Linked DNA regions of Homo sapiens. The protein of the gene in region 2 purifies or fractionates together with the protein of the main gene of each other region. This does not show direct contact. Each region holds a gene or a part of one and is shown on either strand. Other genes may lie near its edges.

Region 1 (5,014 bases), on a different chromosome or scaffold from region 2:
AGTGCTTCACACTTGTAATCCCAGCACTGTGGGAGGCCGAGGAAGGTGGATCGCCTAAGGTCAGGAGTTCGAGACCAGCCTGGCCAACATGGTGAAACCCCGTCTCTACTAAAAATACAAAAATTAGCCGGGTGTGGTGGCGGGTGCCTGTAATCCCGGCTACTGGGGAGGCTGAGGCAGGAGAATGGCTTGAACCTGAGAGGCAGAGATTGCAGTGAACTGAGATCTTGCCATTGCATTCCAGCTTGGGCAACAAGAGTGAGGCTTTGTCTCAAATTAAAAAAAAAATCATGGATGACCTGGGAATCTCAGAGAAGTAAAGAACTGACTCCTAATATGGCAACTTGTCAGGAATATTCAAAGTTTTCCGTTATTGTCCACAGATCCTGAGACTGGACATAAATTTTCTCCAAAAGAGCTAGACACAATCCCTTTGTGCCGTGTTATCTGATGCCAGAACACTGTTTAGCTGTTCACCCCACAGGCCAAAACTGCTATTTGCTACCTCATGAATGCAGCTACAGGTTATCCCCACATATTGACAAATAATATTGGTCTTCAAGACCTGTGAACTTCATTCCAGTAGCTCAGACAAGATTCCTGATTTGATTCACCTGTTAAATACATTTTCTTCCCCCTTTGATACAGTTTCTTCATATAAAACATCTTATCTAAAGAAAATGTCCCATTAACACTCTCATGGACTCTGTCTTAGTAACTGAAGATTATAATCACAGGCGTGAGCCACCACACCTGTCTTAGTAGCTGAAGGTTATAATTACAGGCATGAGCTTCCACACCTGTTCCCTGCCACTATTTCTAAGGACTTCTTGGATCCATGACTATCCCTCCCCGCCCCCTATTTATCCCTCTACCATACTGCCATTCCCTACAGTAAGGAGTAATCCATGGGTGAGACAGGGCTCAGTCATTGCCCCATATCTAATTCCAAGGCTTATTCTCAATGTTAACACAATAATACAGAATAGATATTTCAGCTACTTATGGATTCCTCTTCCCTAATATGTGGATGCAAATGTGTGCAAAGTGAAGAAAGAAATAATAACTAAATGAAGCTTAAGTGCTACATCAGGAGAGACGTAACTATTAACAAATGTTGGAAAACGGGTTTGGAGAGAGGATAGAATGAGACTTTCATTGAGAAAGGTGATATGGAATGACATCTGCTCTTGCCAAAGCCAGGTCTCTCAGATCTCCCAACTAAAAACACAAACAGTATCAATATCCCAGAGAATCTTAACCGCACATTTGATGACACAGTAAGTCCCAGCATCTTAGAATGTTGATACTGAAAGAGACCTTCAAGACTGGCTGCTAAAATCCCATCATTTCTCAAACTAGAAAACAGCTTTAAGAAGAAGAAAGTGACTTGCCTTAATTAAAGATTATTTAGCTGTAACACTGAGGCCAGAGCTCCAGTTTTCTGCTCATGGAACAAATGTTGATAAGTCTTTCTTTTTTTCTTGGGCATTTGGGGGTGGCTTTTAATGTTGGATGTATGTCAACACCAATGGAGCCACTGCTTTTCTGGGACAAAAGAACAGTCCCTCTTCCTCAGGAAAGGTCCAATGTGTCCACACATCTATCCCCATAGCCTTCTATCATGAGAGAGCCCCTCACAGATCCAGCCACTGGCCAGTGACTTGCTGTGAATGATGCCAAGTGGGAGTGTCTGTACCCTGCCCAAGTCTGTGTGGTTTCCTATGCTCTCCTTCTTTGCCATCACATAAATTTACAAATATAATGCAAGCATGTTTATATACATGTTCTTTTAAGTTAAGAAAACCTCATCATGAGAAAAATAAAATAAAATTGCACTGTGGCCTCTCAGATTAAAGACTGAGTTAAAATGAGGTTGTCCAACCCATAGAAGAACAGGCCACACGTGCTGATACAACTGACCCATCATTCCATCCTGGCACTTATTCCCAGCCAACTCATGGGAATAATTCCTTCACAAGGCAGCCAAGAGGTAGAAGGTAAATACAATCAGCCCCATGGATGGATACAGCACACCAAGGCACAGGGCCAGGTATGTGGAGGTGCTATGGATGAGGGACAGGAGGCCGGAAGCATAGGGCCAGACCTCTGGCTCTACAATAGCACTCTCTCCCTTTGAGGAAAAGCATTTGGTCATGAGAGACATCCCCAGCTCATAGCAAATGTCTACAGCAGTGAGGGTGTGGAATTAGGAGGTAAAGAGATGGTGCTGGCCTAAGGGTGACACACTTCTTCTAAACAAACCTCCAGAGTAGAGCTGCCAATAAGGCAAATCTGAAGGGTTGTGATTATGAACTGGGAGATGCTGGTACATCCCCCAGGCCATGAATGACCCCTGAGTGGCCCAGACATCCTCACTCCCAACAGGTCAAAGAATTAGCTTGCAAGGACTTCCCTTGCGAGAGAACCATAGCTGGGTTGAGGGGATGGCAAAAGGCACAGGCAGCTCTAATAGTTCAGCTCTCCCTGACTCCTCCTTCGGCCTGAGGGAGGGGAAAGGAGGCAGAGGTACAGATGACCCGGGCTGCCAAGCCCAGCAGTTCCTACCATAGCTGCTGAGAGTCAGGCCTGAGAACCATAAATTTATGAACTCAGGGTAGAGCCAAGGCTTGGTGTCCCTTCCTCTGGAATGAGAGGCCTCAGCCCTGCCCTTCTCTTCAGGGACAATGGCCTGATGAGGAAAGCTGGCTTCTCACTGAGGTAATGAAGAACACCTGCTCAGCTCCATAGTCACCCTCAAGCTAAGCAGGAAGAATCCCTGCAGGAGGCATTCTGGGACAAAGGCTAAGGAGCTCAGCTTATCAGGACACATCACAATTTTAAATTACACACTCCCACACACAACACACACACATAAACACACAGACCCCCACATACACACACACAGACCCACACTTCCACATACTGACATTCTCCCAACCTACCCCACTCTGAGCCCCAAATCCCTCCCCACAAATACTGTCCTCTGTAAACATGATGGCAGGGACTCCTGCAATCGTGGCACAGGCTGATAATGATCTGAGGATGACTGCTTATCATTAAGTGCCCCGGTACGTGATATTGGTGAAGGTAGACGTGGCCTCTTTATACAGTGGGTTGTTGGCCTGTGGAGGAAACAGAATAGCATCTTACAGTGACTTCCTTAAGTCCTTCCCTACCCTGAATGTTTAAAATTCATCTCAGAAGTTTTCCCAAGGCACCGTTCTCTGGAATACATCATCAATGAAACAGAATAATGTTCATTTTGCTCACACTTTAGTTCTTGGCATGGGAATTGATAGGAAATAACAGGAGGAGATGAGGTAGAATGCCATCCTGCCACCGTTTCTTTTTTTTTTTTTTTTTTTCAGACAGGGTCTCATTTTGTTGCCCAGGCTGGAGTGCAGTGGCACAATCTCGGCTTACTGAAACCTCCACCTCCCCTGACTCAAGACATCCTCCCACCTCAGCCTCCCAAGTAGCTGGGACTACAGGCACACACCACCATGTCTGGCTAATTTTTGCATTTTTTTGTAGAGATGGGGTTTCTTCATGTTGCCCAGGCTGGTCTCAAACTCCTGAGCTCAAGCGATCCACCTGCCTCAGCCTCCCAAAGTGCTGGAATTACAGGCATGAGCCACCACACCTGTTCCCTGCCACTATTTCTAAGGAGCTATATTCAGCCTATCACTCTTCAGTGATTCCACAGCATTCGGGGATAGAACCTCTCCTATTTCACCCCTGTGTCCCCGTCTCTTTTGCCCTTCTCCTATTTTCCATTCCCTGTGACAGTGATAGGAGATGTGGACAAGGGACAGAAATGTATCAGGTGCAATTCAGAACACAGAGGAAAGCTTTTGCTCAAATAATTATTAATTTGTTTTCATCTAATCTGGCCAAGCACTAACCATGGCCAGGCATGGTGGTTTATGCCTATAATCCCAGCACTTTTAGGGGCCAAGGTAGGAAGATCACTTGAGCCCAGGAGTTCTAGACCAGCCTGGGTAACAGAGTGAGACCCTGTCTCTACAAGGGAAAAAAATACAAAAATTAGCTGGCTCGGTGATGTGTGCCTGTAGTCCTGGCTACTTGGGAGGGTGAGGTGGGAGGATCACTTGAGCCCAGGAGATGGAGGCTGCATTGAGCCATGATGGCACCACTGCACTCCAGCATGGGTGACAGAGCGAGACCCTGTCTCAAAAAAAGAAGGAAGGAGGGAAGGGAAGGGAAAGAAAAGGAGAGGAGGGGAGGAAGGGAAGGGGAGGGGAGGAAGCGTAAAAGGAAGGGGAGGGGAGGAGAGGGGAGGGGAGGGGAGGGAATGGGAGAGGAGGGGAGAGAAAGAGAAAGCACTATCCACAAACTGTCATGTTATCAGGAAAAAGTAAGACCCTCACTAGGTTTCCCAAACTATTTTCCAACAGAAAGTAACAAATCCTATAATGGTAGCTTCAAGAAACACATTCTTAGCCAGGCGCAGTGGCTCACGCCTGGAATCCTAGCACTTTGGGAGGCCGAGGCGGGTGATCACGAGGTCAGGAGTTCGAGACCAGCCTGGCCAACATGGTGAAACCCCGTCGCTACTAAAAATACAAAAAATAGCTGGGCACAGTGGCTGGCGCCTGTAATCCAGTTACTTGGGAGGCTGAGGCAGGAGAATCACTTGAACCTGAGAGGCCAAGGTTGCAGTGAGCCAAGATCGCTACACTCAAGCCTGGGTGACAGAGCAAGACTCTGTCTCCAAAAAAAAAGAGAAAGAAACACATTCCTGTGGGCCTCATAGGTACAGGATGTTCCACACTGTTCTAACAGAAACATCTCAGTTTCTTGGGACCCTTGAGTATAAAGCTCTGGGGTCAACATCAAATGGGAACAAACTTGCAGCCTAACTCTGGACATTTGGGGAGTCAAATAGCCATTTGGAGGGTCGAGGAAAAAAGTTGAAATGTGAAAGAAGAGCCAAAAGAGAATAGAGTAAGATTAAGTATATAGAAAGTTCTCAGTAAATGCTTATTTA
Region 2 (5,014 bases):
TAAAAATAATAAGTATAAAAATAATCACCACCATTCACTCGAGCTTGCTTTGCCAGTTCTGCACTGTGATCTTTGCAGGGGTAATCTTACTGAATCCTCTGCTCCAACCCTACCAGGTGGGAACTACTTTTATCTTTATTTTTCTGATGAGGAGATTGAGCCTCAGAGATGTTAAGCAACCTGCCGAAGCAGAGAGTTAATATGTCGGGATTCATCACAGGCAGATCCCTCTGCTCTTGGGAAGCCCAGACCTCAGAAGCAGGAGTGGGTCTGATTCAGGTGTGCTCTGAGGGCCAGCTGTCCTTTCCAAAAATGCCTTCCTTTATTTAGACACCAACATCCTTGCTATTTTGGATTTTTCAATGAGCTTCCTTATTTTCTCCCTATTCTGTCCTATTCAGCAAAATGAATGAATAAATATAGGTTCCTAATGTTACAAATTTAATTTTCTTCTAGAAATGAAAGTGTTTATTTCTCTTCTTTTATTTCTCAAGCCAAAATAATTATTTCCTCCTTCTTAGAAGTCCAGGAATAGGTTAAACTTTAATTAAAAGTCTTATGGTTCAACAGTTGGAATGAGGATCAGGTAATAACGAAGAAACCCCGTAAACACCCTGAGGAGAACCAGCACCCCCTCCATTGGTTGTTTTAGCTCAGCCCACAGCTAACAGCTCAGCTCAGAAAGTTCCTACCACCCACTCCGCTTCTAACGCCTTTTAATATTCGCACAGAGTTTTCTCACATTGTGGCTCTCACACACTTCCTTTATACATGCTGTTTCCTCAGCCTGGAATGCCACCTCTTTCTTTACCTGGAGAACCCCTGTCCCTTAAAGACGCAGGTCAGAAGTCACGTAGTACTCCTCTGCTACCACCTAATGCAAAGCGTGATTATTCCTTCACTTCTCTTCTGCATTTAAATTATTGAGGGAAGAGGCTTGGTCTCATTGCCTTTGGAATAGCTCTGGATCTGCGTTCATGTTTTGTATATAATACGACTCAGTAAAGGTTGTGTAATATATGACTTTCATATGTGTGTATGCAAAGATAATGTGTTCCCATGCCCTTTGACTCAGTTTTCCCCATGGCAATGAATTTAACCACAGGAAATAATTGAATAGGAGAAAGAAGATTACACAGATGGAAGTTCTATAAAATATGTATTTGCTAAACATTGGAAACAAGTTAAATGTTTATCAATTGAGTAATGGCAAGTAAATTGGGGTACATGATCTTGAAGGAACATGACTTATTCTCTCATTCATTATACAAACATATAGACTGCCAAAGAGCTATCAGATACACAGCAATTTAACAGTTACCACATCTGACTTCAATGAATACACAGTCTGGTAGAGTCTTCTAAAATGATAATTACCAAACTACATAGAAAGCGAGCACTATTTGTGGTCTAACGTTAAGAGGAAAACAAATCAGATTATAAAACCATCTGTACATTACGATTGCAACTCTAAACATGTGAGAGTGTGAACAAGGTCTGGACGGGTGAATACAGGAATGACAATATTGATGTGGTTAGATTGGATGACTTTTTCTTTAGCATTATTACAATTGTTTTCGAGCTTTAAACTTTTAGATTGTTCCAAACGTTTCTAGGGGGGAAAAAAAAGCTGCTCCCATAGCCCTGGCTCCCCAGGTTGGCAGTAGCATGAATGATGGGGTATTTTCCCAGATGGGCAGGGGCTTGCCACAAGGTGACTGGGAGGGGATATTCAAGGCAGTCCAGGAGAGTTGGGTTACGGAAGGCTATCACTCTGTAGACTTGGGAGTGCTCACTGGGTGCCATCGTAAGAACCAGCCTCTTCTGTGTCTGGGCTATGCCACGCAGCAGCACCTGCAGGCTCTTCCAAGCTTTGTCAGCACCACAACTTGGGCACAGCACAGCAGTGCCAGGTGTGGAAAGCAGAAGTCTAAGAGGCAGACAAAAGGGTTGAGACCTGCAAGAGTTGGTGGCTAGTTCCTCATGCTGGAAAGGATGATCTCTATGTGAAAGGTACCTTATCCCTCTTCTACAGACCAGGAAACTGAAGCTTGATTTGTCCCAAGCTACTGGAGTTGGGGTTGGAATCCATCCCTTCTTATTTGGGGGCAGGGTTTTTCTATTTCCCTTACTGGCCTGGGAGCAGGTGGAGATGCATGAGGTCATATGGAAGAGACAGGCTGATAGGATGGGTGGAGTCCTTTGGGAAGGAGGAGGCAATGGGGAATCTATTGGTAGGACCCCATGGTGGACGTATGAGAAGCCAAGCATTTGAGTTTTGACTCGATGCAGTAGGCAGTGGGGAGCCCTTGCAGGTTTGGGGACATGATGGAAGAGGGCTTAATGAAGACGAGGCTGGTGTAATCAGGGGAGAGGCTGGATCAGGCACATGGTAAGGGTGATGTGTGGCATTTGTTTTGTGTAATCAGAATAGTACCCACCCATCCAACTTCTTGGAAATATGTATTTCTGCTTCTCCATGAGATTGGACTGGAAGCTTCCATCTTATATATCCCTTCCCCATGGATAACAGCACCTTCCAGGGATGGGCACCTGATACAAACTTGGCCTATCAGAGCACTTCCCTGGGAATTTTGCCCTTGGGGCCAGAGAAACATGGGTGTCAGTCCCTCTCTGGTGATAAAGCTGTGTCATGTAAAGTCTGGGGGATCTATAATGACTAAAAGATTTGAGAGTCAGAGAGAGGGAATTCTAGCTTGGCTCAGGCCCTGGTTTCCCCTCACTTTGAGGGCTCAGACACCCTTTTGCTTGTGCCACAATATGAACAATATTCACCACCCTCATTTAACTAAACTAGTCTGAGTTGAATTTTTGTCATCTGCAAACCAAAAAGTTCTGATGACATTTGCAGTAAGAGAAATGTCTACTCTTTGTCATTCAAAGAGTTCAATTTGTTCATTCTTCAAATTTTGAGCACAATTCTCAACAACACTCTAGGGTTGTTTTGTGTGCATTGGGTCCATCATTTTGTGCCTGTAAGAAATAACAACAAAAATCTTTCCTCACTAGTCAGCATCAGGTTCAGGAACTCCAGGTTCTCTGTAGACACAAGGCTTTGGGATTCCCTTCAGAGAAGGAGCAATGCATCTCCATCACTCGTGTGGTAAGTAAAATTGCTGCTCAGAACACTTCCATGCCTGCTCCTTTGTGATTCAGATGAGGAGAAATCAACGTGGACTGAGCGCCCACACAGGACAGCCAGGCATTTCCCATACAGGTGGTAAAGGTATCTTCTGAACTTCTCCCCAGCAAATGCATAGATGAGAGGATTCAGGCAACAATGGCTAAATGCAACCGTCTCAGTCACACTGAGGGCCAGCCTCAGATCCTTCCTCATGTCACAACTGGGAAAGAAGTCATAGAGCTTAAGCGTCTCCAGGAAAATCATAACGTTGTAGGGTGTCCAGAAGAGGAAAAACACGATGACCACCAGAAGGATCAGTTTAATGGCTTTGGCTTTCTTGTGGTTCTTGCAGGAAAACAGCGTCTGGATGATTCTGAAGTAGCAATAACTCATAATGAGCAGGGGGAGTAGGAAGCCAAGAAAATTTGTTTCCACATTGCGGAGCACGGGCCAGATTTCCTGGAGGACCTCGGGGTAGTCACCAAGGCATTCATTTTCTTTCTGCTTTGTGAACATGAACTGGGGTGCTGCCACCAAAATGGCTGCTGCCCAGACGCCTAGGCTGATGGTGACGCCATGCTGCACGGTCCGGTTGTTCATGGAGTTGGCGGCCAGGACGATGGCCAGGTACCTATCAATGCTGATGACGGTGATGAAGAATATGCTTCCAAAAAAGCCGATGAAGAAGAAGGCGGTAGTGAATTTGCACATGGCATTGTGGAGGCCCTTTTCATTTATCAAATAGTGAGTCCAGAAGGGCAAAGTGGCTACAAACAGCAGATCAGACAAGGCCAGGTTCAGGAGGTAAATGTCGGTGACACTCTTGGGCTTCTTGCTGTTGGTGAGGGCAAACACTACCAACAAATTTCCCACCAGGCCAATGGCAAAGATGACGGAGTAGAATATGGACAGGAACACAGTCCCAAAGACCACGATGTCCCCAATATAACAGGCCTCAGCCAAATCATCGTACTCAAAGTTTTCTGTCACTGATTCAGGGAACTGATCCATGGTGAAGGCCTGGATCAGAAAGAAAAACAAGTAACTGTGTTAGTTATCAGAGAAACAAAGTTGGAATTCTGTGTGGCCTCATATGTAGGCAGGCAGGAAGAAACAAATATTGGTTGGGTGCACACTACATTTCCCAACTTCCCACTTGCCATCTTGTTTAATCCCCACAACAGTCTTGTGATGAAGACTGCAACAGACTCTTCTGACAGGAGAGGCGGACTCCTTTGACTTGCCCAAAGCCATGCAGTAAATGGCTCTGTGAGCATTTGGCTCTAGGCATTTTTTTTTTTTTAAATGGAGTCTCGCTGTGTCACCCAGGCTGGAGTGCAGTGGTGCGATCTCAGCTCACTGCAACCTCTGTCCCCTGGGGTTCAAGCGATTCTCCTGCCTCAGCCTCCCAAATAGCTGGGATTATAGGCGTGCACTACCACGCCTGGCTAATTTTTGTATTTTTAGTAGAGATGGGGTTTCATCATGTTAGCCAGGCTGGTCTCAAACTCCTGACCTCAGATTATCCTTCCGCCTCAGCCTCCCAAAATGCTAGGATTACAGGCGTGAGCCACAGCGCCCAGCCAGCTCTAGGCTTTTTGAAGCTTGAGACAGATCTGTTTTACTTTTACTGCCCAAAATCTCTCCAAAAGCTAGCTAGTTTGACCAATGTGTGGATGAGAAAGGGAGAACCATGAGCAGGAGGGGGAGGGGGGTGAGATGGGGTGAATTGGGGGTGCAGCTGTAATTCACACTTCCAGTCCAAACTTCCCCAAAGCAATTCTCCATCCTCTTCCTTTGTTTCCACCTTTTCCACCCTCTGGCCCCTTACTTTTCCATGAAGCTAGGCCTGGAGAGAGAAGCCTCAGA

Evidence for each region.
Region 1: the proteins of CX3CR1 (region 2) and ITGB3 purify together in Homo sapiens (co-immunoprecipitation; one study listed by IntAct). This does not show direct contact.

Annotation. Positions count from the first base shown.
Region 1 is NC_000017.11:47,308,250-47,313,263, reverse strand, and holds part of ITGB3 (integrin beta-3 precursor), read right to left. Parts: intron 3,126-5,014; coding exon 3,060-3,125; 3' UTR 1-3,059. UniProt on the Homo sapiens protein: Integrin alpha-V/beta-3 (ITGAV:ITGB3) is a receptor for cytotactin, fibronectin, laminin, matrix metalloproteinase-2, osteopontin, osteomodulin, prothrombin, thrombospondin, vitronectin and von Willebrand factor.
Region 2 is NC_000003.12:39,262,354-39,267,367, forward strand, and holds the end of CX3CR1 (CX3C chemokine receptor 1), read right to left. Parts: intron 4,166-5,014; coding exon of another isoform or gene 4,157-4,165; coding exon 3,089-4,156; 3' UTR 1,143-3,088; downstream 1-1,142. UniProt on the Homo sapiens protein: Receptor for the C-X3-C chemokine fractalkine (CX3CL1) present on many early leukocyte cells; CX3CR1-CX3CL1 signaling exerts distinct functions in different tissue compartments, such as immune response, inflammation, cell adhesion and chemotaxis.